Regions from separate parts of the Homo sapiens genome. Here all the other regions are linked to region 5. Evidence: fine-mapped expression QTL. A gene starts in region 5. Each other region holds a variant in brackets. All regions are shown on one strand. Distances are between the middles of the regions.

Region 1 (5,996 bases), 520 kb before region 5:
AGATGCTTTTTAGCTGCCTATTTCCCTGGGAAGCAAAGACCAGTGTCTACAGCTAAGGAGAAAATCAGCACTTAGAAACTTGGATTAGATTTCACCCAACCCTTAACAGTATTAATTCTCCCAAGTTATTTTTCCTCTTGCAATGTAAGATGATTCTCTACACTTAATAGTTTAATTCCTTTGGGCCATTACTATTGGGGATGCATATTTAAGGGCTGACTTCCTTTTATATATATCTTACCTTTTACCATTTATTAATTTTTTGGAGAGTTTTTATTATTTTTATGTACAGAAAACTCAACAGTGTACATTTAACCCAGTTTAGTGGCAAGTTCCTCTGCCTTTGCTATTTCCAGCTTGGCATTGTGAGCCACAGATTTTGGACTCGGGACATTGCAGATCTCATCATATCCGTCATTGTAATTTGTCCTGATAGCTTCCACCAGCTTAGCCAAAGCTCCTTTGTCTTCCTGGTTAACTTGTGTGAAGGCCACAGTGGTGCTTCCTGTGGACTGGATGTCCCAGTCTTGCCTTCTTACCCCTTGATAATGCATTAAGGGACCCCCCATTTTAGGACACAGGACAGACAGAAAGTTAACCAGCTTGATGGGGTCCACACCATGTGCAATACCAGCTGAGCCTTCTTCTTTTCCAGCAAGGTGGTGATAGTGTTAACCCCTGCTCAAAGAACAGGTGATTTCCTAGTGGGGACAACCCCTTTGCTAGCAGCTTTCTTCTCAGCCTGGGCCAACAGTCTCTGCTTCTTCTCTTGCTTTGTCTCTGGTCAGTACTTGTGGATCAGCTTAAGTGGCTGAGTAGCTGTTTGGGGGTCTAAGGCTTGGGTGAACTGGTTAATGGCAGAAGGCACTTTCAGCTGCTTATAGAGGATAGCTCTTTGCAGCTGGAACCAGATATAGCGGGGCCATTTCACAAAGCAGCGGAGGTCCCTTTTGGGCTGGATGTCCTGTCCAATGCCTGCCTAAGAAAACTCTTAGGCCTTTTCTCACACAGCGGTTTCATCACTTTCTTAGCCTCCTGCTTCCTCACGACGGCAGGGTCTGGGGCCACTTTCCTTCCTTTGGCCATCTTTCCTTTCAGCATCTTAGGCAGCTGACAGAGAGAGACATTTGACCATTTAAAAAGGAGAACACCTTTATTTAGTCTGTCAAAAGCATGCTTCCTTCCCTCACTGAATGTTGCCTTGCCTAGAGTACTCTTCACGCATTACTCTGTCATCTCACTTATGGTACTGTAACATGTTGCACTATTTGAAATGATCTTTTCTGTTTGCCTGTCTGCTGCCTGGCTCCCTCATGAGAAGATATGCTCTATGAAAACAGGAGTAATGTCTGCTTAGTAAAACATGTGGGACACAACAGGCACCATTGTATAAATGAATGAATGCGTGTCACTGGGGCATTTGCTAGCCGTCCCAAATGTCTAAGTGAAAATATACACAGAGACGGGATAACATCTTGTTATTTTCTCTCAGCATGAAATTCCTGAAACAATTCTGTTGATTGAGTTTTTAAATTAGTCAAATATTTACTAAGAATCTGTGACGGGCAAGAGATTCGGGATGCCTATCAGTCCTCTCTTCCCCCAAAAAGCAAATGGCCTTAAATTCTCACAACATTCTCAGAGTAATTTAACAGATGATTGTTCCTGTGATCTGGATAATTGCTTTATTTTTAATTGTCTGTTGTTTTTTTTTCCTCACCAGGTGTAGGGAGTGAAGTCTCAGATAAGAGGACCTGTGTGAGCCTCACTACCCAGCGACTGCCGGTTAGCAGAATCAAGACCTACACCATCACGGAAGGCTCCTTGAGAGCAGTAATGTGAGTCTGCCTCCTCAGAAGTTGTGCTGGGTGGGTATCTAGAAGTATAGAAATACACTCTGTAGAAATGCTGCCGTCCTCAGGAAAAGTAGGTCAGCATAGAGGAACACCTCAACTTAACCAAAAACCTCTTTAGTTTTCCTTATCAATCATGTCTTTCTGCAGCCCAACCGAATAGCGATTATTGCAGAAATTGGGCTGCCAAAGAAAGAATAGAAGTCCTCCTCTATTTAGCTTAGTGGAAGAGTCTGTTGAATACTGTGCACAGCTCTGAGACCTGGGTTTAGAGATGACTGGCCCATGTCAGGGTTTCCCTGCAAGCCTCACTGGAGTTGGGGGATCTTAGGGTTGAGTCAGGCAGAGTCCCATACTTTTATCAGTTGCCATATTTCAAGAAAATGAGTCAATGCACAACCTACATGGTCCCTTTCTTCTACCAGAATCTCATTTTTAGAAGTAATAACTCTTCTCAACATGTAATTGCAAGCTTTACTCTAAAAAATGAAAATGTAAAAATCACTTTTTATTTAAAAAATAAGATGAATATTTTTAAATTTGAAAAGGAAGAGGTTATGTAATAATGGAACTAGTTGGCCTCAAAGTCTTTTTGTTACAACATTTGGTGACATGGATGAGAAAAGGACCCTGTGAATTATTGTGAACAAAGGGGCTGGATACTACTTGCAGATATTACTCCTTTATGTTAAAATAGATGGCAGAAGAAGGGTACTCATTTATGATCTCATGGCTCTGAAAGACTATTTCTTGCAGTAATTTCTGCACAAGATCTCTTCATGTCTGCCCTGATCTTAACTCCTGACCCTGAGGCTTTGAGAATGTGGCTAACTTCGTCTGTCTTTTCCTTGCGTTACAGTTTTATTACCAAACGTGGCCTAAAAGTCTGTGCTGATCCACAAGCCACATGGGTGAGAGACGTGGTCAGGAGCATGGACAGGAAATCCAACACCAGAAATAACATGATCCAGACCAAGCCAACAGGAACCCAGCAATCGACCAATACAGCTGTGACTCTGACTGGCTAGTAGTCTCTGGCACCCTGTCCGTCTCCAGCCAGCCAGCTCATTTCACTTTACACGCTCATGGACTGAGTTTATACTCACCTTTTATGAAAGCACTGCATGAATAAAATTATTCCTTTGTATTTTTACTTTTAAATGTCTTCTGTATTCACTTATATGTTCTAATTAATAAATTATTTA[T/C]TATTAAGAATAGTTCCCTAGTCTATTCATTATATTTAGGGAAAGGTAGTGTATCATTGTTGTTTGATTTCTGACCTTGTACCTCTCTTTGATGGTAACCATAATGGAAGAGATTCTGGCTAGTGTCTATCAGAGGTGAAAGCTATATCAATCTCTCTTAGAGTCCAGCTTGTAATGGTTCTTTACACATCAGTCACAAGTTACAGCTGTGACAATGGCAACAATTTGAGATGTATTTCAACTTGTCTCTATAATAGAATTCTGTTTATAGAATAAGGGAGAAAATAATCCAGTCTTCACTGGGTTCCCATTCTGAGGGTCCACTACTCAAAAATTTGCTTCACTCAATTTTTTTCACCTCTTTGTGTTTTATTTTGGTGTCCTATTAAAGGAATAAAATGACACAACTTGTCCCTTTTTTGTCCCATTAGCAAAAATTAGAATTTTGGTATAAAGAAACTTTATTCAAGTAAAAATCAATACCCTTTGAATTGGACAATAATCTCACTACCTTATTAGGATTTCTGTATTTGCCATTACGCTAGTTATCATGCATGTTATGCTTTACTGCGAATAAGCTTTTAATGCTCCAAATGCTGACCCATGCAATATTTCCTCATGTGATCACAATTTGCAGTAAACTTTTAATTAAATGCTCATCTGGTAACTCAACACCCCAGATTCATGCTGTCTTGTATGCTAATTAAATTGCTGATTTGTTTCATGCTTAGGGTTTTACTATCCAAGTAGCTGACGATGTATACATTCTCTTCTATCAGACTCTGAATAGGAAGACCTGACCTTGCCTTGATAGTTTTAAGTGAAAAATATTGGCTGTTGTTTATTCTTGTGGGGGCATTTAACAATATCATGAATTTTCAGAGGGTAGATGAAAGCAACTTGTTCAAATCTGCTCACTTCTAGTCATACAACTAGTGAATCAGAGTGGAAACTACTAAAAAGTTGCCTCCTAGCAAACGGTGTGGTCACCTATCCATGTTCATTGATATTTGTCTAAAATAAACTTCAGAGGTGGTCTTAGAGAAAGCAATCCCTTAATAAGAACAGACATCCTGCTTCATGAAGGCTGAAAAATAACAAAGTCACAAAAGATGAATGGAATGGTTTGTCTGCCAAATGTCTCCCAGACCCTAAGGATTTATTTGGGATAATAATAATAGGATGTGTGGAAGGATATGGGCAGTGCTTGACTTTTCATTTTATGGCTGTTCTATCTTTTAAATAATAAATAGTTGTTAAAATATATAACCATAGCTATTTTCTTGCTGTACAAATATGAGCTCACTTAATCACATTACAGAGCTCAATTAAAGACAAGACAACGGAGGCATAAAAGGGTTAGTTAACTTTCTGAAGGTCCCTTGGTCTGTGAGGGGTAGAGTTTAGATCTGAACTCATGCAAGATTCAGGGTGTTGACAACTGTGTCACGCTGTCTTTCTCACTTCAGAAGACAATTCCCTTCGGGCCAAACCATATGTAAAGAGATGATTCAGGGGTTATCCTTATTTAACCTACAGACTTCATTCATTCATTCGTTCAATAAATGTTTACTGAACGTTTATTATATGCCAGAAACTGAAGACACAGCAGAGTGAACAGGACAAAGTCACTGCTTTCTTAGAGCTTACATTCTGGGAAAATCTTTCTTGCTTCCCTTCCCCAGGAACTCACTCCACCAATACATTGTTATTGCATGCCTAATGGATTCCAGATGCTTGGCTGGGCACTGGAATGCAATGGTGAAACCTTCAGGTGTTTATCTTCTGGGGGTTTACACTGGGGAGACACACAAGTAAGCAAACGATTTCAATGCAGTGTAATATGTGGGATGATGGAGAAAGCAGAGGGTGTGAGCTTTGGACACACAGGAGCAAACCTATCCAGATCTTAGCATGAATGGAGGGTAAAGATGAGCTTCCCCTTGAAAATATCCTCTAACTTGAGACCGGAAAGAAGATTTAGAGTTATGCTGAAGGTTTCAGTGCATTCTAGGCAAAGAGAACAAGCATCACAGGCAAAGGCCTGCAGGTAAGAGGAATCCTGATGAATTAAGGAAAGGCAAGTAGTTTAATATGACCGAGGGACAGTGCGGGGGTTAGGAAGTGGGTGCAAAAGGTGAGGTCAGGGAGGCAGAGCAGATACTATGAAGGGCCTTGTCTGCCAGACCAAAGAGCATGTACTTCGTTTTAAAGGCTGTGGGAAATGACATCAGCTGCCAGGTGGAAGATGGAGCGTAGAGAACAAGATAGGAGTCAGGAAGCCAATTGGGAGGGGGCTCTGGACCTCGTGACTTCTGAACTTGGCCTGGCGTGGTGCAACACCTTTTACCTTTACTTCATGGGCCTTTACTGCTTAGCCAGGGAGCACATTAGTTATGCATGACTGTGTGACTCACGCTGTGGCTCAGTTGTGCATGCCGAACACCTTGGGCCAGTGACTCCTTTCACCAATTTCCTTGGCTGTAGAGAGCCAGGGCTTGGATGGGAGAAAATAGCATTCCTGGAAATCACCTTATTACTTTCATTATTCTTTGGCTAAGCTAAAGTTGGATCAGTGAGAACACAATTGGAGCCAACCACCCAGAGGAAGAAGGAGGCTGGGTTGTATCAGTGGAGTTTCAGAGATCCACAGACCAAGCCTTTTCTAATGTATTCAATGTCCTGAATATTTGCTGAGCACCTGCAGAGCACATGGGAACAGGATCTAGCCTGCTGTCCTGATGCTCATGACAGTCATCAAAGCCATTCCCATTTGGATGTTCCAAATGGCCCAGCTCAGGGCTTGACTTCCCTTGGAGACCTTTCTGATGTCACCAGTCTAGATGAGCCCCATCACCCCCATGTACCTGCTCAGCCCCTGGGCTCATCTCTGTTACTGCTTATATCATCCTGAAATACCATTTTATTTGACTTTATT
Region 2 (5,489 bases), 33 kb before region 5:
AGAACCTGTGCATTTAATTACTTTGCCACCACCTCGCATAGTTTCAGGCTTTGGCAGAGTTTGGTAGAGCAAAAGACTTTCCAAACTGTCTCCAGGGACCAACCTTTGCCTTCTGTATCTCTTAGCCTATTACTAAGGTAAGGTCAGGAATGATAACTTCTTGGTCAGCCTCATGTTACTGCCTTGGGAAGATTTTGAGAATGGCCATCTCTGTTTCACCTTCTTCCCCTGGCACATGAAACGTCTTTTGGGATGTGTGTGTGACTCAGGGACCTGCAGGCTGCACTATGTTTGAAGATTTTCAGATATCATGTGCCAAGCACAGAGTATTATTATTGAGGATATTTTCCTATACAGTTTTTTTGGCATCTTCTTCACAAGCCAATAATCTTTTATTGGCACTAACTTATATTGGCAAAAGAAAGAGGACAAAAAACACGAGAAACAGGCTGAGTGAAATACCAGCTCTCCCCTGAGGACTGGTTGCTGGCTGAGCTGCCCAAGCCTGTCACTCACCAGAGATGAAGATACTCAAGAAAAACAAGATACTCCCTGCTTCTTGACAGAGTGTCCAGGACCTTCCCAGGAAATGAAACCAGAGAAATATCTTAGGCTTACTTCTCAGTGGTTAAAAGCTGGGACTCTTCAGGAAGACAAAGCTGGATTTGATTCCCGGCTCCTCTACATCTTGGCTGTGTGAACTTGGGCAAGGTTCATACTCTCTCTTGCTAAGCCTTCATTTTCATTTTGTAAAATGGAAGTGATAATCATAATAATGCCTTCGTTACAGGGTCTTTGTAGGAAATAAATGAAGTGATGTGGAAAGGTGCTTACTACAGTGCCTCATACGCAGTAAGCACTTGATAAATGCTGGTGTATTATATTAGTGGTGGGATTTGAAATAAGCCTGGGGTAAAAAGGGGATGGTGGTGGTGCTGCTCCTGGTGGCGGTGGTGGTGATGGCAGTGGTGGTGGTGATGGTGGTGGTGATATTTTAGCAATTCTCAACAAAGAGTCAGGAAAAAAAGATTAGATTTCAAAGAATACTCTAGGGAAGCTCACATCCCACAAAAGCTATATTCCTGAGAGATTATCTGGATTTAAATATTTAAAAATTAAACCTTGTTTTTCTATTAGATTCTTTTATAATTCCAGAAACATTTCTGTTTGATTTTGATAAATTTAACTCTTTACTTTAAACAATGTCCTTGTGTCACCTCTTTCTAGCTTTATGTTCTTAGGCAACATTATTCACTTTCTTTTTTTTTTTCTTTGAGATGGAGTCTCACTCTGTCACCCAGGCTGGAGTGCAGTGGCTCAACCTTGGCTCACTGAAGGCTCCACCTCCCGGGTTCAAGTGATTCTCCCACCTCAGCCTCCTGAGTAGCTGGGACCACAGCTGTGCGCCTCCAGACCCAACTAATGTTTTTTTGTGTGTGTGGTTTTTTTTGTATTTTTGAGTAGAGATGGAGTGCGTAGGCTGGTCTTGAATTCCCAGCGTCAAGTGATCCGCCCACCTTCGCCTCCCAAAGTGCTGGGATTATAGCCTGCACCCAGCCTATACACTAATTAAAATATCAATTTTCTTCATCTGTAACATTAAGCTCTGGAATCACCTGAGATAATGTCCATGCAAGTGCTCTGTAAATGTGTAATAGCCCCCTATAGAAATTGTAAATTACGGCCGGGTGCTGTGGCTCACACCTGTAATCCCAGCACTTTGGGAAGCCGAGGTGGCCAGATCACGAGGTCAAGAGATCGAGACCATCCTGGCCAACATGGTGAAACCCTGTCTCTACTAAGAATACAAAACTTAGCTGGGAGTGATGGCGCACACCTGTAGTCCCAGCTACTCAGGAGGCTGAGGCAGGAGAACCACTTGAACCCGGGAGGCGGAGGTTGCAGTGAGCCAAGATCTTGCCACTGCACTCCAGCCTGGCACAGAGAGAGACTCCATCTCAAAAAAAAAAAAAAAAAAAGAGAGATATTGTAAATTACAATGGGTCCAGTGCTACTCTCAGCTGGACTCCTTACTTAAGACATTCATAAAGTAAAATATACTTTCAAATGGAAAATAACAACAGCTTAGTTTGTCCTATTAAGTTTGACTTTTGTATAATATATTTTCTTAAAGAAGACAAAACTGTGGAGAAAACTGTGCTTAATGAAGTACAAGCAATATGAAGAAAATATTGAAAAACTTGATTAAACTTGATTAATATCTTTTTTTATTTTGGGTTTTTTTTTTTTTTTTTTTTTTTTTTTTTTTTTTTTTTTTGGGAGACAGAGTCTCATTCTCTCACCCAGGAGGGAGTGCAGTCGTGCAATCTCAGCTCACTGCAACCTTTGCCTCCTGGGTCAAGAGATTCTCCCACCTCAGCTTCCTGAGTAGCTGGGACTACAGGCACACACCACCACACCCAGCTAACTCTTTTTTCCTTTTGCATTTTTAGTAGAGACAGGGTTTCCCCATGTTGCCCAGGCTGGTCTCAAACTTCTGACCTCAAGTGATCTGCCCACCTAAGCCTCCCAAAGTGCTCGGATTACAAACATGAGACACTATGTCCAGCCTGAAAAACTTGATTAACATCTTAGGAAGGTGATATAATTCTTTTGTCATAGAATTTTGTCAGAGAAAGGCAGAGCAATGGGTGTAGAACAGAAAAGTTTTCTACCAAGTTATCACAGAATCAATCTCTTCAGTCTCTCCCAGATTCCAGACAGCTGGCCAAATATTACCAAATTAATTGTGCTAACACACTGGTTTTCATCTTATTGCTCCCCTACTCAAGAATTCCCAGGGGTCCCTAATTATCCATGTGGAATGCTCCAGTTCCACAGCCTGGCCTTTAAGTGTCTTACTTTACCATACCCCGCCACTCCCCTTCTCTGCCTGGGCCCTGCCTCTCTCTGTAATGTGCATTATCCACTCCACCCCAGCTTTATTGTCTCCTGATCAGTGTGCACTTCTCTCCTACCACAAACATTTGCTCACCTGTTTGTTTTTTCCTCTACTGTTTCACCTATTTTATTCCTACATACCCCCATTAATTTTCTTCCTTTTGCATGTCTACATTGTCTTCGTTTTCTGCAATATTTGTTATTTAAATCCTAGTTGTTCCTAAGGTCCACCTCCCAATATTCCTTCCCCAAAAGCCCTGGCTGGCATGGATCACTCAGTGCTGGGATTACCCCTGCATCTACTGGAGCTCTTAGCTTTCCTGTGGGTGGATCTGTCTCCACGGCCAGATTGTTCCTGCTCTAGGGCCAGGGCTAGCCCTTTTATTTCTTGTGCATTGTGTTTTGTTTGTCCACGGCCAGATTGTTCCTGCTCTAGGGCCAGGGCTAGCTCTTTTATATTTTGTGCATTGAGTTTTGTTTGTTCTGTGATCCTTTCCAGAAAGGCTTGAGGGCAACTTACAACACACACGCACACACACACACACATGCACACACACAAGCACACAGGCACGAATGGCAAAATATAAATAATAATACATAGAAGAGAAGGACAACGAAGGTAATTAAGACTCTAACTTCCTCCAGTTTCTGTCAACCACAGGTACTCTATCTAAAGAC[A/C]CTCAAACTACAAAGAGTCAGTGTCCTAATATCCACATGAGCACCTTGTTACTGAAACCTTAGCAAGGAAAGAACAGGAAGAAAACCAAACACAAGTGAAAAGAACAGAAGTTGCAACAGAAAGAATCCCAGGCTTTGAATTTCTCATTCATTCATTTATCCCTTTATGCAATAAAAGTTTTTAAAGCATCTCTTGTATACAATGTACTGGCTATGTAACTAGTTCTATAACTTAAGTGAGTCTCTATCTAAGCCTCATTTGTTAAATAATAACAATTAAAAATTAAAAAGGGGGATAAACTTATGTTCTTTCCCTAATGAATGCACAATAAATTTGGAAGAAAACATTATTTCCATAGATAACACTGAAAGCCAGGACGGGTCCATGTCCTGAAATCTAAAACTAGTTTGGAAATTAAACACTAATTCTAAAAGAGATCTAGTGTTTTCTGACTTTTTAAATATTTCATGTGTGGCTTTTCTTGGACATTTCCATTTATGAAGAGAATGAGATAAATCTGATCACCAATAAATGCATAAAAATTAGTCAACCTCACTGGTAATCAAGTAATCAAAAATGTAGTACCATTTTGAAGATAATGTAAAACCACAATGAAGGCCAGGTACAGTGGCTCACACCTGTAATCTCAGCACTTTGGGAGGCCAAGGCAGGCAAATCACTTGAGGCCAGGAGTTCGAGACCAGCATGGTCAACATGGTGAAACCCCACCTCTACAAAAAATACAAAAAATGAGCTGGGTGTGGTGGCGCACACTTGTAATCTCAGTTACTTGGGAGGCTGAGAGTTTCTTGAATCCAGGAGGAGGAGGTTGCAGTGAGCTGAGATTGAACCACTGCACTCCAGCCTGGGCGACAAAGCAAGACCCTGTCTCAAAAAAAAAAAAAAAAAAAAACCTCACACAATGAAATCCCACTATATACCCACTAGAATTTCTAAAATGAAAAAGATTTACAACATGTATATTGGAGAGGATGTACAATAAATGGGACTCTGACCAATGTGGAAATTAGTATAACCGCTTTATTTTATTTTGTTTTGTTTTATTTTTTTTTTAGATGGGGTCTCACTCTGTTGCCCAGGCTGGAGCGCAGTGGCATGATCTCAGCTCACTACAACCTCCACCTCCCAGGTTCAAGTAATTCTCTTGCCTCAGCTTCCCAAGTAGTTGGGATTACAGGTGCCCACCACCATACCTGGCTAATTTTTGTATTTTTAGTAGAGATGGGGTTTCACCATGTTGGGCAGGCTGGTCTCGAACTCCTGACTTCAAGTGATCCACCCACCTCAGCCTCCCAAAGTGCTGGGATTACAGGCCTGGCCAACATGGTGAAAGCCCGTCTCTGTTAAATAAAAGTACAAAAAAATTAGCCAGGCATGGTGGTACATGCCTGTAATCCTAGCTACTCAGGAAGCTGAGGCAGGAGAATCGCTTGAATATGGGAGGTGGAGGTCGCAGTGAGGCAAAACCGTGCCACTGTACTCCAGCCTGGGTGACAGAGCAAGTCTCCATCTCAAAAAAAAAAAAAAAAAAAAGTTAAAATGCACATCTACCCTGTGACCCAGCAATTCCAGTCCTGGCTATTTATCAAATATATATATATATATATGTCTACAAAAAGCCTTGTTCAAGAATGTTCATAGCAGCTTTATTCATCATAGCTAAAATTAGAAATAATCCAGATATTCAGCAACAGGATGAACGAACTGTTATATATTCATACAATACAGTAATAGCAATAAAAAGGTAACAAATTCCTGATATCTGGAATAACTTGGATGTCTCAAAAAGATTATATTGAATGAAAGCATATATGGTTCCATTTATATGAAATTCTAGAATCTACAGTGATATAAATAATCAGTGGCTGCTTCTGGAGTGGAGAGTGAG
Region 3 (6,115 bases), 220 kb after region 5:
TGCCTTCACTAAAATAAATATAAAATAGAAGAAATGACACATCTAACTAAAGCAAATGAAAAATCCACGAAACCTGGTACTTCCATTTATCCATGTAGCCTATCCACCAAACCTGCCAACCACACTCTTTAATTCTGAATTGGGCAGCAGAATTTTGCACTATACTCTATCCAGAAAAGAGTTTTAATACAAAGAAAATAAACTGAGGAACTGTTGCTTCTGGCTATGACAAAGTAGCTCACAGCAAACCAATGCTACTTCTAAGAACAACTAGAAAAGTAGGATATCAAAGATTTGGAGAGCTTTTAAGGCAGCCAGGATCTGAGGATCCAAGATCCAGAAAGACAGGAAGCCCATTGAAGTGAAACCAACATTCATTGCGTTGTCTTTACTCGTAAGACATGTGCTGAGTCTCAAGTCAAGCAGACAAGTGACTGAGAAGCCTAAGAAGCTGGTAGAGGGAGCCCACCAAGGGACAGAGAAACAGGTACAAAAGTGAGCTGAAACCTGTGCTTGTTCAGTAGAGCTTTTGGAAACGAACTCCCAAGCTAGTGCTGTTTCCTCTGTGGGAAAAGGTTTATTACTCCAAGTACAAATTATATTCAAACTTGATTTAAACTTAACTTTCTGGTTTACCTTTACAGTAAAAACTGTGTTTACTTCCTAGAGTTAAAAGATGTACCTGGAGATATAACAGTGGTACATCTGGACTTGGGATAAAACATCACAGTGAGGTTGGCCTTTCAACTACCTGCCTGACACACATGCACATACACACACCATCCAGACCAAAGCCACCCTTAAAATTTAAAGAAAATTTACTTTTCAGCTTTGTTGAGCCAAATCTAGAAAAAAGGAGGAACTTGGTTTCCTTCCTCAAATGCTATTAAAGCTATATATCATTTTGTTTTAACTCTTCACTTTATGGATAAAGAAACTGAACTCCAGATAATATAAATGACTAGCATAAGGTCACAGAGCTGGTTAATAACTGAGCCAAAACTGGAAACTACATTTCCTATGACTCAGATATTTCCATATCACTAGCCTTCCAGGGCCAACTCAAGAGAGAGAAACTAACACTTTAGTAGCACATAGATACACCTTGAGTTGTCTGTCACAGATGCTCTGATGAGAATGCCACAACCTAATGATTACACAGACAATCATTAGCTCCTTCTTCCCTGAAGATTCCAACTTCTATCAAAAGTACTTTATGAGGAACATTTAAAGATTACACTGCATCAAAAAGAGACTTTCTTAAAGAAGCCAAATCATTTTTCCTCTTTTGAACATTTTAAATATAAGTTATACATAATAAAAGAGTTGATCCCTCACACATAATCACACTTTGTTCCAGAAATCTTAAAGTCTTAAAGGAAAATGTGTATTATTATACCAGAAGTCTTGAAGTGACTTGAACTGGACAATGTGGTATTATTATACCCAGAAGCCTTAGTATCTTAAAGTCTTAAGGTCTCTGTCTATACAGAGAGAACTTTCCTAGAGCACCAGTCTTACTCGATGGTAAGTAACGTAAACAATTTTTACACTGCAACATGCATATATGTGTATATAAATATATGTTATTGAGTGGAATGTAAAATTCATATAAGTTTTATAACAAAAAATAGGTGATTTTATGGAAATATTGACCAATATTGGAATTGCAAGTGAAATTATATTTGAAGATTAAACAAGTCTTTGGAGAAATAAATCACACCACCACCTCTCTCTGCTACTGTTTAAAGGAAGGTCCAGCTTTACAGTGGATCATATGAAATTAACAATCTTTTCCATACAGATATACTTTAAAAAATCCAAACTCTCAGTTCAAGAGTAAGTTTAAGCGTATGTTACCAAGCAAAATTGTACCTTGGCCTCATTTCAATAATACTGATCAGAAAGCTATTCCATTCCTGATGATACTATGATCATCAATCAACAAATACCAACTGGGCCTGGTACTACTAGCATGCTGAGTGCAACGAGCACACCAATCTGATAAGTCTGCTGCTGCTGGTGCTACTGCTGCTATCATTTGCTGGCAGCCTACAGCAAGAGACATGGCCCTGAAATGTGTTGCTTAAAGAGAAGATCCAGGAAACTATAAAGGGGTTTTTTGGAGGGGGGGATTATGGAGGAATATTTGTGAGAGTCCAAAAGACCTGGGCAAGACTTAATGTCTCTAACTCTCATTTTCCCCATTTGAAAAATGGAAACAGTACTTTCTTCATAAGGTAGTTTTGGGGATTAAATGACTTAGTTTACATGAAGCACTTAGGATTTCTGTTGCCTATGTCTCCCAAAGCGATGATGGTGGCTTATAGGTCCACCTGTGACTTTAGAACTGCATTGTACACACTCATCTCCCTCACTGATCTTTTTCTGACATACAAGAAGAGCAACTCTGGATTTGTGATGATGCAGCCTCAGCTGCAACTAACCCTAGGTAAATAGTTTTTTAAAGGTCTTTGCAGAAAAAAATCAGTATGAAGGAAAAAGGGATTTATGATGGACAAAAAAATGACTAAAATTATATTTATAAATGAAAATAAAAACTATTGAACATATAATACTAGGTAAATTTTTTTGTAAAGGATATATCATATTAATAAATCAGAGCCAAAGTACAATTCTTACCTTTTGGGGAGTTCAAACAGTTATAGATCTGTTTTTGTCAATAAAAATTTTAGTAACAATTTTCTTTTTAAATTTTATAACACTATCTGTTGCACATTCATCATTAGTTTTATAATGGACTTAGGGTGCCCCTTAAAGCAGATATAGCTTAGATCATAATACCCAAGACTTTTCAAATACATGTAAAGCCTTCCTAAGAAGGATGGGTACAAACATGCCAAGATTGCAGACTACAGTAAATACCTAACTTTTCAGTGCCCAGACACAGATGAACATCCACAAGTATCAAGATCATCCAGGAAAATATGAACTTACCAAATAAACCAAATAAGGCACAAGGGACCAATCCTGAAGAAACAGAGATATGTGACCTTTCAGACAGAGTATTCAAAATAGCTCTGCTATAGGTTTCAAAATCAACCCTGGCTAGGGGCCTGAAGCAAACCAGTTTAGTGCTAACAACAACAA[A/C]AAAAAAATCTGATCTAATTTTTTTCACTTTACTTTCTCTCCCACATATTCCTTATTTCTCACTCTACCGCTCCAAGCTTCAACTTCCTTGTTCCTAAATATTTTATGAAAAAGTTCAAAACACTTTTTCTTCTGGATAAGTAATATTTGTGTTTTCTTAATGTCATGCTGTGGTTTGAATTTTCAAATTTCATGAAAATTTGTGTTTCCTGAAAAAAAAAAAAAAAAAAACCTCTGCTAAGGAAACCCAAGAAATTCAAGATAACACAGAGAAGAAATTCAGAATTCCATCAAATAAATTTAACAATGAGATTGAAATAATTAAAAAGAATCAAGCAGAAATTCTGGAGCTGAAAAATGCAAAAAGCGTACTGAAGAAGGCATCAGAGTCCTTTAATGGCAGAATTGATCAAGCAGAAGAATTAGTGAGATTGAAGACAGGTTATTTGAAAATACACAGAGGAGACAAAAAAAGAATAAAAAACATGAAGCACACCTATAGGATCTAGGAAATAGGCTGGAAAGGGCAAATCTAAGTTATTGGTCTTAAAGAAGAAGTAGAGAAAGAGATAGGGGTAGAAAGTTTATTCAAAGGGCTAATAACAGAGACCTTCCCAAACCTAGAGAAAGATATCAATATCCAAATACAAGACGATTATAGAAAACATTAAACAGATTTAATCCAAAGAAGACCACCTCAAGGCATTTAATAATCTAACTCTCAAAGGTCAAGGATAAAGAAAGAATTCTAAAAGCAGCAAGAGTAAAGAAGCAAATAAACAATGGAGCTCCAATACATCTAGCAACAGACTTTTCAATGGGAACTTTACAGGCCAGGAGAGAGTGTCATTACATATTTAAAGTGGTGAAGGAAAAAAAGACTGTTACCCTATAATAGTATATTTAGTTAAAATATCCTTCAAACATCAAGGAGAAATAAAGACTTTCCCAGACAAACAGAAGCTGAGAAATTTCATCAACACCAGACCTGTTCTATGAGAAATGTTAAAGGGAGTACTTCAATCAGAAAGAAAAAGACATTAATGAGCAACAAATAATCACCTGAAGGTAAAAAACTCACTGGTAATAGTAAGTACACAGAAAAACACAGGATATTATAACACTGTAACTGTGGCGTATAGAGAAATGCAAATCAAAACCACAATGTGGTACCATCTCACACCAGTCAGAATGGCTACTAAGAAGTCAAAATGGCTGGGCGTGGTGGATCACACCTGTAATCCCAGCACTTTGGGAGGTTGAGGCAAAAGGATCACGAGGTCAGGAGTTCAAGACCAGCCTGGCCAACATAGTGAAACCCCCATCTCTACTAAAAATACAAAAATTAGCCAGGCATGGTGGCAGGCGCCTGTAGTCCCAGCTATTTGAGAGTCTGAGGCAGGAGAATTGCTTGAACCCGGGAGGAGGAGATTGCAGGGAGCCGAGATCGCACCACTGCACTCCAGTCTGGTGACAGAGCAAGACTCTGTCTCTAAATAAATAAATAAATAAAATCCATTACAAATGTTACTGGAGAAATTAAAAAAATCTTTAGTGGCTACTACAAGCAACTATATGCCAATAAACTGAAAACTCTAGAAGAAACAGAAAAATAACCAGATATATACAATCTACCAAGATTGAACCAGGAAGAAATTCAAAACCTAAAGAGACCAATAACAAGTAATGAGATCAAAGCCATAATAAAGACTCCCAGTAAAGAAAAGTCCAAAAAATAGAGGAGGAGGGACTACTTCCAAACTCATTCTACGAGGCCAGTATTACCCTGATACCAAAACCAGACAATGACACATCAAAATAAATAAATAAATAAAACTACAGGTCAATATCTCTGATAAATATTGATGCAAAACTTGTCAACAAAATACTAGCAAACTGAATTCAGCAATACATTAGAAAGATCATTCATTATGACCGAGTGGGATATATCCCTGGGATGCAAGGATGGTTCAACATAAGCAAATCAATCAATGTGATATGTGATATCAAAAGAATGAAAGATAAAAACCATACAATCATGTCCATTGATGTTGTAAAAGCATTTGATAAAACTCAACATACCTTCATGATGAAAACTCTCAAAAAACTGAATATAGAAGTAACATACCTCAACATAATAAAAGCATATTTGACAAATATGACAGACCCACAGCTAGTATCATACTGAATGGGGAAAAACTAAAAGCCTTTCCTCTGAGATCTGAAACATGACGAGGGTGCCCATTATCACTACTGTTGTTCAACATAATAATGGAAGTCCTAGCTAGAACAATCAGACAAGAGAAAGATATAAAGGGCATCCAAATTGAAAAGGAAGAAGTCAAATTATCCTTGTTTACAGATGATATGATTTTATATTTGGAAAAACCTAAAGACTCCACTGAAAGACTCTTAGAACTGATAAATTCAGTAAAGTTGCAGGATACGAAATCATACAAATATCAGTGGTATTTCTATATGCCAACAGTGAACAATCTTAAAAAGAAATTTTAAAAAGTTATCCCATTTACAATAGCCACAAATAAAATAAAATACCTAAGAATTAACAAAAGAAATGAAGATCTCTACAATGAAAACTATGAAACACTGATGAAATAATTTGAAAAAGACCAAAAAAAAAATGGGAAGCTATTCCATGTTCATGGAATTGGAAGAATTAACATTGTTAAAATGTCCACACTACCTAAAGCAATCTACAGATTCAATGCAATCCCTATCAAAATACCAATGTCGTTCTTCAAAGAATAGAAATAGAAAAAACAATTCTAGAATTTATATGGAACCACAAAAAACTCAGAATAGCCAAAACCATCCTAAGCAAAAAGAACAAAACTGAAAAAATCACATTAACTGACTTCAAATTATACTACAGAGCTATAGTAACCCAAACATCATGGTACTGACATAAAAACAGACACATAGACCAATGGAACAGAATAGAGAACCCAGAAAAAATCCACACACCTACAGCGAACCCATTTTC
Region 4 (5,988 bases), 24 kb after region 5:
TGAATGGCTGGGAAATTGCTCTGGATTAAATGATGAAACTTATGGCTACAAAGAGGGCAAACCGTGCATTATTATAAAGCTCAACCGAGTTCTAGGCTTCAAACCTAAGGCAAGTAATATTTTAAATGATAGAATTTAGATGAGTCATTTACACTAAGTACTTAATTGATCTGAGAAGACAATGTAAGATAGTTTTAAAGTATACTCAGTGCTGACTTTGAAACGTAGCCAGTAGAGTAACACCAAAAACTTCTGTATCCACCCTGCAATTCTTGTAGTTAGGACATTAATCTCATTTTCTAAAGTTAAAGGAATTCTGAGAGGCAAAGCTGCATTCTGAAGTGAGTCTGTGGCCCTTTTCTTAATACTCCTGCTCAGTATCCAGATAACAGTTTCTATAACATAAACTCTTTAAAAAAGTAAAAATGGAAAAATATATTTTTTCCCTGGTGGTCTAGTGGTTAGAGAAAAAAAAAAGTTTTTTATTTTTTACTTCATAAAGAATGGATTAAAAAAAAAATTTTAACCCACTTGCATGTATAGTCCAGTTTTGGTCCTCTGGAAGCCACAGGAACATTTCAAAAAAATTGATAATCTGAAAAAATATTTTTTCTGAATTTTATTGCGGAAGTAGAAGTTTAACATCATCTAGGCTGAATTTTGCTAGCCATGCTGTTGGCTTTTTGTATTACTGCAACTTATAATGGATAAACATTACTCTGGATCACTGAAAAATGAGCAAATTGCCATTGCTCACCATTTGGTGAGATTATATTCTCCATAAGAATGGAAAATTTATCGTTGTTGTCTGCTTTTGTAAAGCTGGTCATTTCATCCTCTCCTCCAGATCATGAATTAATGCTGTCCTTTCCCCTTAAGCCTGGCTTCTTCTGGCAGGTTTCCCCCTAATCACCCGTATATGAGCGTTGGCATTATGAGTGTTGTTTCTAATTTTGATAGAAATTGACTGCAGTATATTGAGTTATGTGAACAAACTCATTTCATTTCTGAAATCTGGCACTTTTGTTCATTAATTTTCTATTGAATGCTATTAATTTATTTCTACAATGCTTGTTACCCATGAATAATATTTTCAAAAGAAAATCAACACAGAGATAAAAAGTTTTGTTAACTGAAGGATGCATCAAAGTTCCTTTATTGCCATCAGAGGCAAAAATGAGTAGGTGGGGATGGATGGTTGCCTGGCTGGCTAGTTTGATGGACTGCTGGCAGAAATTAATGTACCTCTCAAAAGGATTTTAAGCTTCTTTCCACATAGACAGGATATAATGGAAGAAAAACGGTGAGAACCATTATGCCAAAATGTATTTGATATTCATATTGCTGGGGAATACTTCACTGAGATCAATCAGCTATTTAGCAGCAAAAGAAATTGTTGTGGCATGGCCAAGAGAAGACTCATCCCATACTTTCTGAGTACCTTGCTTTTGACATTACTCATCGTAGACACTGAATGACATTTGGACCCCACAGAGGCAGTCTAGTCTATTGTGATTGATTTCTTCCCACATCTTTAGAGTTACTTGGTTCAGTGATAAATTCAGCTACTCTTTCTTTTCAGTCCTTTTTTTCTTTTTTCTTTGGTCTCTACTTGGTTATCCATTGCCACTGCCTAATTCATCACCTCCACCCAAATCTCCAACTATTTTGGAGTTATTTTTGTCAGAGATCAGAGTATCCCAGCATCTCACTATCCTCACCATTGGAGGATAGATTCTGGCAACTTCTTAGTGAGCATTTTCTCTACATATTTTTAAAGACAAATACATTGCTGGCAGAAACGTCCCAAAGAGTCAAATCTAGACGATCATTTTCTTGCATCCAAAACAGAGTAGTAGCAAAATAGTAGTTCCTTCCTGATGTGGAACTAATATTTTATCTGACTTTGATTAGACTATGTATGTGTTACATCTCACATCAAGACTCACTTGCTGTGCTGATCTGAGTAAGCAAGTGACTGTCTTCCAGCGAAGTATGTTCATCACACTTCTGAGATAGATTTGAGCCATGGGTGTAGAAGAGGAGGCTCTGGATATTTCATGACAGCAGTAATTTTCAGACTGTCCTCTGGGTCCCTTCAGTGGATTCACCCCTTCAAGACCACCCTTCCTCTTAGGGCAGTGACACCTCTGCCTTTTTTACATATTGGACTTTCCTAAGAAAATTGCAAAGAAA[C/T]GCTCCTTAAATGGCAGTCTCCCCGACTGGAGATTAAAACAACAAAAAAGGAAAGCCTACTTGAAGTCATGCTTGAGGGAAAAGGATGACATTATTTATTCATGACTCAGGAGGAAAGCCCACGCTTTATAAAAACAGAAATGTCAATCATCTTTCTCATGTAATCTAATCTTAGCAAATAACGAGCATTATATTTTGGGTTGACTTAGTTTTCAGTGTCTTTAAGCAAAGCTTATAATGGGCTACTATTAAAAGTTCCATTTAGTACTGGTTTGCATCACAGCTTAATTGTAGTCGTTATAAACTTGGGCACTTATTTTCATTTCAGCAAAATCACAAACATGACCTTAAATTGGTTAGGGGAGTCATTCATTCTGCTGTCCTGATGTCTTTTGTTATTTTGGTTGACTTACTGTGACCAGTGTGTACTTGTTTGGACTACGGAGTAGTTTTATTTTTCAGAAACTTAAGAAATCATTTACAATCTACTGATCATAATGGGTTTTATTTTTAGCCTCCCAAGAATGAGTCCTTGGAGACTTACCCAGTGATGAAGTATAACCCAAATGTCCTTCCCGTTCAGTGCACTGGCAAGGTAAAGACAAATTTAGGGTTACTGGGGTGGTGGAAGGGTAGGCAGAGGAAGAGGGGAGAATGAAGAAGACTGTTTAAGTGACAGGTAGAATTTTAATAGAAGAAATAAGAAACATTGCTTTCAAGTATAAGTCTCAGTGAGATGAATTGTAGCTATACTAGGTAAAACTTTTTAAAAGAACAGAAAGATGTAATCAGAATAAGACTGATGTCAGTTTCTCCACTGGCATAAGAAACTCAAATATCTGAATTTAATACATTGGGATATTTGCTTATCAGAACTGAGAGGTGAATTAGCCCACAGAAGTACTTTCTGGCCCACAGCATGTATTAAAAATTTGGGGCCAACATTAAAAAAAAATTAATGTCACATAAAAATTAGTGGTTTGGGCTTCTCTTTTAAAAATATTGAAATATCGCCTGGTGCAGTGGCTCACGCCTGTAATCCTAGCACTTTGGGAGGCCGAGATGGGCAGATAATGAGGTCAAGAGTTTGAGACCAGCCTGGCCAACATGGTGAAACCCTGTCTCTACTACACATACAAAAATTAGCTGGGCGTGGCGGCGCGTGCCTGTAATCCCAGCTGAGGACCTGAGGCAGGAGAATCGCTTGGACCTGGGAGGCGGAGGTTGCAGTGAGCTGAGATCACGCCATTGCACTCCAGCCTGGGGACAGAGCAAGACTATCTCAAAAAAAAAAAAAAAAAAAAAAAAAAAATTGAAAGACTAAGGTAACAATTAGTGCATGTTTCCTTTGGATCCAAAAACTAATGGACCGTTTAGAGAGAAAGGCAGAACAAAGAAAGGGAGTTCCCAGACAGTGCTAGCACCAAGCAAGGAAGTGGAGATTGATTTCTCAACAAGAAAATGAGAGGCAAGTAGTAAACTTTGGAGATAATATCACTAGACAGATTATTTACTGGGCCAACAGCAAGGTGTTTCTGCCTTTCAATGTTGGCCTTGTTTCTAGGAGGCTTGAAGAATGCTTATTTGGCATTTGACTCAGCTTCCCCATCCATTTGCACATTGAGAATAGTCTCTTCTTATGACCATTTCTCAAGGCTGCAATGGAATAGACTGAGTAGATGTTCTTTCCTCTCTCAGTAGTTTGCAAACTACTGTGTAGATTGAGTCTTGTTTTTGAGTACACATAGTGATGCATGATGTGAGCCATTAAAATTTCATTTCATTCTGGATTTCAGCGAGATGAAGATAAGGATAAAGTTGGAAATGTGGAGTATTTTGGACTGGGCAACTCCCCTGGTTTTCCTCTGCAGTATTATCCGTACTATGGCAAACTCCTGCAGCCCAAATACCTGCAGCCCCTGCTGGCCGTACAGTTCACCAATCTTACCATGGACACTGAAATTCGCATAGAGTGTAAGGCGTACGGTGAGAACATTGGGTACAGTGAGAAAGACCGTTTTCAGGGACGTTTTGATGTAAAAATTGAAGTTAAGAGCTGATCACAAGCACAAATCTTTCCCACTAGCCATTTAATAAGTTAAAAAAAGATACAAAAACAAAAACCTACTAGTCTTGAACAAACTGTCATACGTATGGGACCTACACTTAATCTATATGCTTTACACTAGCTTTCTGCATTTAATAGGTTAGAATGTAAATTAAAGTGTAGCAATAGCAACAAAATATTTATTCTACTGTAAATGACAAAAGAAAAAGAAAAATTGAGCCTTGGGACGTGCCCATTTTTACTGTAAATTATGATTCCGTAACTGACTTGTAGTAAGCAGTGTTTCTGGCCCCTAAGTATTGCTGCCTTGTGTATTTTATTTAGTGTACAGTACTACAGGTGCATACTCTGGTCATTTTTCAAGCCATGTTTTATTGTATCTGTTTTCTACTTTATGTGAGCAAGGTTTGCTGTCCAAGGTGTAAATATTCAACGGGAATAAAACTGGCATGGTAATTTTTTTTTTTTTTTTTTTTTTGTTTTTTGGCTCTTTCAAAGGTAATGGCCCATCGATGAGCATTTTTAACATACTCCATAGTCTTTTCCTGTGGTGTTAGGTCTTTATTTTTATTTTTTTCCTGGGGGCTGGGGTGGGGGTTTGTCATGGGGGAACTGCCCTTTAAATTTTAAGTGACACTACAGAAAAACACAAAAAGGTGATGGGTTGTGTTATGCTTGTATTGAATGCTGTCTTGACATCTCTTGCCTTGTCCTCCGGTATGTTCTAAAGCTGTGTCTGAGATCTGGATCTGCCCATCACTTTGGCTAGTGACAGGGCTAATTAATTTGCTTTATACATTTTCTTTTACTTTCCTTTTTTCCTTTCTGGAGGCATCACATGCTGGTGCTGTGTCTTTATGAATGTTTTAACCATTTTCATGGTGGAAGAATTTTATATTTATGCAGTTGTACAATTTTATTTTTTTCTGCAAGAAAAAGTGTAATGTATGAAATAAACCAAAGTCACTTGTTTGAAAATAAATCTTTATTTTGAACTTTATAAAAAGCAATGCAGTACCCCATAGACTGGTGTTAAATGTTGTCTACAGTGCAAAATCCATGTTCTAACATATGTAATAATTGCCAGGAGTACAGTGCTCTTGTTGATCTTGTATTCAGTCAGGTTAAAACAACGGACAATAAAAGAATGAACACATTCCTCGTGTGTGATTCACTCTTGTCTAAATGTCCCAACCTGTGACTTCTTTACTTTCCACACCACTAATTATCCAAGATCTTGAAGAAGTATTGAACCTGAAACGGAGAAACACATAATTTCTTAGTTCAGACAAATTTTGGTCTTTTCCACTTAACAGAGTCCAAGAGGTTGGTCAGGACTTCAGACACTGGCATACCCCTTCCCAAAGACACTAAAAGTTAATCAATCAATCAGAGGCAGAGAATCGATGAAGCTCCAGTTTGAAGTTCCATTTAAAAAAATCATCTTGCAGTGCTACTGCTACTTCACTCAGTTTAGAAAACATGAAGTGTTGGTTCCTGCTATTGCTTCACTAGACATATGTGTTAAAAAAAAAAGTTGTTAGCACTTCAGTTTTTAAAAAATGAGGTTAGGTTTGTGGTTCAGTAAATTAAGGTTCATACCTTGCTTTTTGGTTCAGGGATTGGCCTAAGTCCTTATTTAGCTGTATTTAAAAATTAGCCTTAGTGTGAAAGAAGATAAAAAAGCTTTCCAAAAAACATTTTCCAGCTATAATTATTAAAGA
Region 5 (5,992 bases):
GTTTGGCAGAGAGATTCAGAGAGCCAATATTTGGGGAGGGGCAGAGAGGGGAAGGTCTGTTTTTCAAATCTGGTTCGACCTCATGCAGCCTGCCAAGTTGCGCCCTCTCTTTTGCAGGCACCCCTCACTTTAGCTTCTCTGAACAGAAGGATCTTACTGCTAGGGGTTGATTTGTCCTGCCTCTTCTCCCAGCCCAGCTTCTGACTGGCCACCTTGCTACAAACAGGACTGCTCTGTCCTGCTTTTACCTGCCAGCCTGTCTGCCTCCAGCGTAGATTTTTCTTCAATCGCAAGAGCATCTATTCATTTCCTGAGTTAGAACATGTCATCCTCACTGGGACGGAGGTCTCTCACCGCTCTCCTGCCATTCCTGCTCTCCGCTTCCCCTCATCCACCCACAGAGCACTAACCTTGGGCAGAACCAATCACAGGACTCCAGAACCATGCCTCTTCCCCAGCCTGCACTGAAAAAAGGGATTAAAAATTGTTCTCTTCCTCCTGAGCCTTTAAACTGAACTGAATAATTTCTTTCTCCTTTCTGCAGAGAAACACTGGGTTTCCATACGCATTGACTGAAAAGTTGTCTTAGTTCCCCATGGTCCACACCCTCTTCCACGCCCAGCCACACACTCCACCTGCCGGGGCACCCCTCCCTTTGGAGAACCACACATGTTCGGCTTTCAACCTGCTGCTACAGCACCCTTCACAGAAGGGGCCTTGGAACAAAAGCCCAGCTCAGCACAGCCCAACGGGACATAAAGTACTTGAGTTATTCATTACTTGAGTTGGAGGAGGTCACACAGCAGGAAGCGCACTGGAAAGCAAGGGGAAAGGTGGCAGAGAGGGTGGGGAATGCGTCAGGGTGACCTTCTAGGGGCTGATGGGAACTCAGAGTCCTGGTATGGGGTGGGTATCAGAGTGGGAAGGTGACAAAGTCATAGCAACAGCCCCAAGGTTAGCCAAGGTCAAATGGAAACAGCTGATTATAATTAAGCTAGCTACTTAGCTCTTGCCATGCCTCAGGCACTGTGCTTAACACTTTCCCATATCGCTCCTTTTATCCTTGCAATAATGTATCACTTCAATTTTATGACTGAGGGAACAGCCCTGGAGAGAACAAGTGACTTGCCCAAGGTCACCCAGCTAGCATGCATGTTCTGAAGCTGGGAAGGTGAATGTAGGTCTTTACCAGCTTGTTCTGTGTGATGAAGTGGTTAGATGAGTGGTACAATTCCAGATGGTCTAGAGTGGCGGGGCAAGTGGAGTCTGAGATGAGCTACTGAGATAAATCTGGTTCCTATAGGGCTGAGATCATGTTTTCCAGCAGCAATCCCAGGACTGGGTGGAAACCTGGAGGTTTTCAGGAAGGCTGGAGGAGGCTGGCTTAGGATGAGCTGCTGCATTGGCTGTGCAGACGTGACCCTCAGGACTTCATCTGAACCTGTGAAGAGTTTCCATGCAGGGAAGGGGGGATGAGTAGAGCTAGGGACCTAAAATTTGAGAGGGGAAGATATTCCCCAGTGGAAGACAGTAAATCAAAGACTAGAGACCAAGCATCAGTCTACTGGGTGTTTGCTACACCTCTGAAGAGCTAAGGTAGGACACTTGTTTTAGGAAAAAAGAAAATCTGTCACTGGAGACTCTCTTTATATATTTTGTCTTACCATATGCTTCTTTTGGAAGGGGGGTTGGGAATCAAGGTACAGGAACGGAGTGGGCACAAGTAAGGGCACCACCAACTCCCAGAACCGCCTCATCCCTTCCCATGCTACCCTTTCCCCACTCATCTCTTTTTGCTGATTCTGCCTACAGGTTTTCCCTCCTGTTACAGTAATGGACACTCAACAACACATACCCTTCCCAGCAACCTGTCCTGCTGGAAAACTACTCGATAAGGTAACTTCTGCCTGAAGGGGACCAGGGTCATCATACCCGCAAGTGCAGCATCTTCCTGCAGCTCTCATACTACCAAGCTGGGGTTTTTCCAACATAAACATTACAGGTGCTAAACGAGAGGTGGCTTCCTTTCTCAATAAGCTGTTCTCTCTCTCGGATGCCCTTGACAGAGCCCTGCAGCCTCCCCCACTGGGGCTTGGTGGATAGGTGGTCGCTTCTCCCCCGAATTTCAGGAATGTTTAGGTTTGCACAGGTCCTGCAGGCGAGCTTGGAGAAGGATTAGAAAAATGCTCATTCTTAATCAGTTCGGGCTTGTCTTTATGCCAGCGAGGTTGACCTTGGGGACAGAAGGGTGGCCAGGATAAGGACAAGCATCCTGGTATTGGGGAATTCTCTGATATGGGGCTGGGACGTCAAGATGGGCCATGATGGCCCCTGGGGATAGGGCTTCTCTGCAGTGGAAGCAGAAGCATCCCGGTGTTTTCTGCTGTGTCACTGTCCTCAGAGGGATGTATAAAGCTGCTTGGGGGCTCATAGGAGAGGGATGAAACCAAGAGTTTGGCTTTCCAGCAACAGCGGACAAAGAGTGGGAAGGGGTACTCTATGCCCCAGGTCTGCAACATCTTGCCCTATGCGCTAGGTTTTCCCAAAGGTCCTTTGGCTCCAAGAATTTTACAGCAGAACAAAGGGATCGATACCCCCAAGGGGGCATAAAAGCATGCCAATGAGAATACCCGCCGCCGACCGGGCACCAAGAAAGTCCTCGGTGGCTGGGTCACGTGCAGATATTGTTGCCTGGGGTCTAGACTGGCCTGAGTCTCAATTGGTTTCTACGGGACAACTCACTGCGGGCTACCGCCCTGGGTGGGTTTGGCAATTGTCCTGCTCGAGGTGGTTCAGGCCGCCCACAAGGGGCACAGCCGGGCAGTCAGGAACCGGGGCTGCCGGCTGGGCTGGCCTGCAAAGAAGAGGGAAGGGCCGGAACTGCAACCGCAGTGGCGGGGAGTGCGAGGGGGCGGCAGGTGCAGGAGCGGGAGGCGGGGCGGAGCTGGGCAGAGTCCTCGCCAGTCCGGCGTCCCGGAGTGACCTTCCCCCACCCCGCCAGCGCCCAGGAGGGGTGGACCCACAGCCCAGGGAGGCCGAAAGCGCGGGCGGGCAGGCAGAGGCGTGGAGGCTGGGCCAGGACTGCCGGGCTGGGGTCCTCGAGGCTCCGGGCGACCCAGGTGCGGATCCCCCAGCCACGGAAGGGGCGGTTCACGCCCAGCCGGGAGCTGGGAGGGGGCTGCGCGGCGCTGCCTGCGCGTCCCTCACCGCCGCCCCCGCCTCCTCCTCGCCCCGCGCCCAACGCCCCGCGCCCAGCGATCCAAGCGGCCCCTCTAGCCCCGGCGGCTCCTTTGTGCCGGCCCCGAACCCGCCCTCTCGGGCCGAGTCCCTGCCCCTGGCGCCGGCGATTGGCCACCGGGCCGCTAGAGGGCGGGGCGCACGGCCGCCGGGGCGCGGTATATAGTAAAGGTAGGGCGGGCGCAGCCAATTCCTCGGCTCCTGGCGGGAGTGCCGGTGGCGCCCCGCAGTCCGCTTGTCCGTCCTTCCCTCTCTGACTCTCCTACCCCGGGCCTGTCTCTGCAGAGGTCAGGGGAGGCGGGGGCCCAGCACACGTCCCCAGTGGCAGCGGGAGCGGCAGCTACGGGTTCGCGGAGCCCCCGACCCCCCAAGGGCTAGAGGAGCGCTCGGCGGACCAAAGAAAGCCCGCGAGCGGCTGCGCGCCCACCAATAGGTGCGGGGCTCGGAGCCGCGCAGCCTGCGCCGTCCCTCCCTCCGCCCCCGCCCCGCCGCCGCCGCCGCCGCCGCCTCCCCCTCCTCCTGCTCCTGCCTTGGCTCCTCCGCCGCGCGTCTCGCACTCCGAGAGCCGCAGCGGCAGCGGCGCGTCCTGCCTGCAGAGAGCCAGGCCGGAGAAGCCGAGCGGCGCAGAGGACGCCAGGGCGCGCGCCGCAGCCACCCACCCTCCGGACCGCGGCAGCTGCTGACCCGCCATCGCCATGGCCCGCGGGAAAGCCAAGGAGGAGGGCAGCTGGAAGAAATTCATCTGGAACTCAGAGAAGAAGGAGTTTCTGGGCAGGACCGGTGGCAGTTGGTGTAAGTACGGGGTCCGCAGCTCCCGGCCGCCGCGTCTGATCTTTCCCGGGCGGCGCATCCCCTGCGCAGGGTCCGCGGCCGGTTCCGCACCCACCGCGCTGGCCGGGGTGGCGGGGGCGAGGGTGGTGGACGCTGCTGGGTCGCGCCGGCCTGGGCTTGCAGTCCTGTGCGGAATGCGGTGTCCCCAGAGTGGGGCGCAGGGTCGGGGCTGGAACACGACAGGCGGAAGGTTATGCATATCGTAGCGATCTTGGCTTGGTAATTTGCAGTCTTTCCTACCGTGCATCGGTTGAGCCTTTTACTCCTGGGAATAGTCAGGCTCTGCGAGACTACATTTGTCTCTCCCGTGTCCTGAGTCCTTAAAAAAAAAATGAGATCTGGGGTCTTGAGAGAACCTCGTGAGGTGATGGGATCTAATGCAGACGAGGTTGTGTGTTACAGCATCTTTCTTCTAGTCTAAATACGTATCTCAAAAGAGAGGAAAGAGAAGGGTGGAGAGGAATCCATCCACACTGTAGTATTTCACAGCGATGGCTAAGGATTTCCCTCCATGACCTCCCCTGGAGTCATCACCACCCAGAAATGGTTCAATAAGCTCCATTTCAGGACTCCGATTCTTAGCTTTGGCCCGAAACCTGGCAAAGTCTGGTTGTTTTCAAGGTCTACACAGACAGTTGTGGATCAGTCAGTAGGTTGGGTTGATTATGGTGAAGGGAATATAAACGCAGAGCAGCTGATCTTAAAATATTTTGTGCAGCCTGTTGCTTGGTTGGATAGACTTTTTTCCATCGAAAATTAGATTTCTTGTTTTCAGCCTCTCCGGAAAGGTGACTTTTTTTTTTTTAAAAAAAAGGTCATTTTGAAGGGCAGAGTTGTAGGCGAATCTATGAGTCGTGACTGCGTGAGGGAAGGAGGGAGGGAACTCCCCCTGCTGCATCACTGCCCCCTCCTCCTCCAACATCATCATCATCATCATCATCATCATGACCATCACCACCAACACCACTGGCACCACCACTGCAGTCATTCAGGGAGTCCTGAACAGAGGCCGATTGGTGTTCCTGCTTGGGAGGATCTGTGGGAATCGGCAGGAGAATGAGTCAGGGAAATAGTGCTTAGCTGACATTTTGAAATGGAAGAAGCTGGAATATATGAATTTTTGTAAAGAAAAAAAAATGCAGCCTGTGAGTCTCTCTTGATTGAAAATTAAAGGGTTAATAATGCATCACACTTCAAGGTTAGTCAAGGTGAAGCGTCTTTCCAAGGTGTTACTGGGAAGCATAGGTATCCCTGAGCCATGGAAAATGTAGTTCTTTAATGGCTTTTAGCTTTTGTTTTATATTTTATTTTGGGGAGACTTCTTCATTGAGATTATTGTCATAGTGTCTCAGGCATAAAGGTAGTTTCCTGTGTTTTACTGTGGAAAGGAAAACCTGAAGAACTGTGGGGTGTGTGTAGAATGAACAGCTCCCTGGCAACTCCTTGTAACTTGAGGGAGGCCTGGAAGGTGCACTGCGGTATGGGCACCCTTCTCCCCAGGTTAGCTGGGGCTTCCTTCTCTGGTGGTCTGACCCTGCTGCGTCACAGGGGCAGGGGCTGCATTGACTCTAGGCACATTGTGAAATTTGCCTTCTTGTCTTTTTCCCCTTAGTATAATATGCATCTTTGCTCATTCCAGTTTCATGCTTCTCAGAATAATACTTGCTTTAGAGGGTAAGGCAGTATGGACTGACTCATTTTTAAGCCGACATTTAATGGGCAGCACCTCCATGAGAGAGAGAAAGAGAGACCGTGTGTGTCAATTTTTATGTCTTGATATCCTATCCAGCAAGCTATCAGTATGCTGATTTGTGAATGTAGACCCAGGACTGCTGTACTTGCCTCCTCTTCCCTTCCATGTTCCACGGTACAGGTGCTGGGCTAAAAATCCCCTTTTTGTTTTGTGCTAATATGTCTGCCCCTT

What was found. PIP is the estimated chance that this variant, and not a neighbour inherited with it, causes the effect.
Region 1: its variant is fine-mapped to the expression of ATP1B1 in whole blood (TOPMed, PIP above 0.99).
Region 2: its variant is fine-mapped to the expression of ATP1B1 in transverse colon (CEDAR, PIP 0.95).
Region 3: its variant is fine-mapped to the expression of ATP1B1 in monocytes (TOPMed, PIP 0.90).
Region 4: its variant is fine-mapped to the expression of ATP1B1 in whole blood (INTERVAL, PIP above 0.99).

What each region holds. Positions count from the first base shown.
Region 1 is chr1:168,578,340-168,584,335 of GRCh38, forward strand. XCL1 (X-C motif chemokine ligand 1) reads left to right here. Exons shown (of 3, transcript NM_002995.3): 2 at 1,724-1,838; 3 at 2,713-3,730. The coding sequence ends at 2,881. It also overlaps the pseudogene RPL7AP21. Among named protein-coding and RNA genes, the nearest start is that of XCL1, 4.7 kb to the left of the region's middle. The variant T/C (reference allele first, on the strand shown) is at 3,059.
Region 2 is chr1:169,070,244-169,075,732 of GRCh38, forward strand. The region is part of intron 1 of LINC00970 (long intergenic non-protein coding RNA 970); the gene reads right to left. Among named protein-coding and RNA genes, the nearest start is that of LINC00970, 14 kb to the right of the region's middle. The variant A/C (reference allele first, on the strand shown) is at 3,580.
Region 3 is chr1:169,326,074-169,332,188 of GRCh38, forward strand. The region is part of intron 1 of NME7 (NME/NM23 family member 7); the gene reads right to left. Among named protein-coding and RNA genes, the nearest start is that of NME7, 39 kb to the right of the region's middle. The variant A/C (reference allele first, on the strand shown) is at 3,112.
Region 4 is chr1:169,127,300-169,133,287 of GRCh38, forward strand. ATP1B1 (ATPase Na+/K+ transporting subunit beta 1) reads left to right here. Exons shown (of 6, transcript NM_001677.4): 4 at 1-109; 5 at 2,711-2,791; 6 at 3,993-5,420. The coding sequence ends at 4,256. It overlaps NME7 (NME/NM23 family member 7), which reads right to left. Exons shown (of 12, transcript NM_013330.5): 12 at 5,232-5,518. The coding sequence ends at 5,486. Among named protein-coding and RNA genes, the nearest start is that of ATP1B1, 24 kb to the left of the region's middle. The variant C/T (reference allele first, on the strand shown) is at 2,197.
Region 5 is chr1:169,102,898-169,108,889 of GRCh38, forward strand. ATP1B1 (ATPase Na+/K+ transporting subunit beta 1) reads left to right here and starts at 3,793. Exons shown (of 6, transcript NM_001677.4): 1 at 3,793-4,029. The coding sequence starts at 3,933. LOC101928596 (a long non-coding RNA gene) reads left to right here and starts at 1,227. Exons shown (of 2, transcript NR_135799.1): 1 at 1,227-1,596; 2 at 1,813-2,010. RefSeq lists enhancers at 2,210-2,783, 3,274-3,568, 3,357-3,929, 3,930-4,502 and a silencer at 2,841-3,760.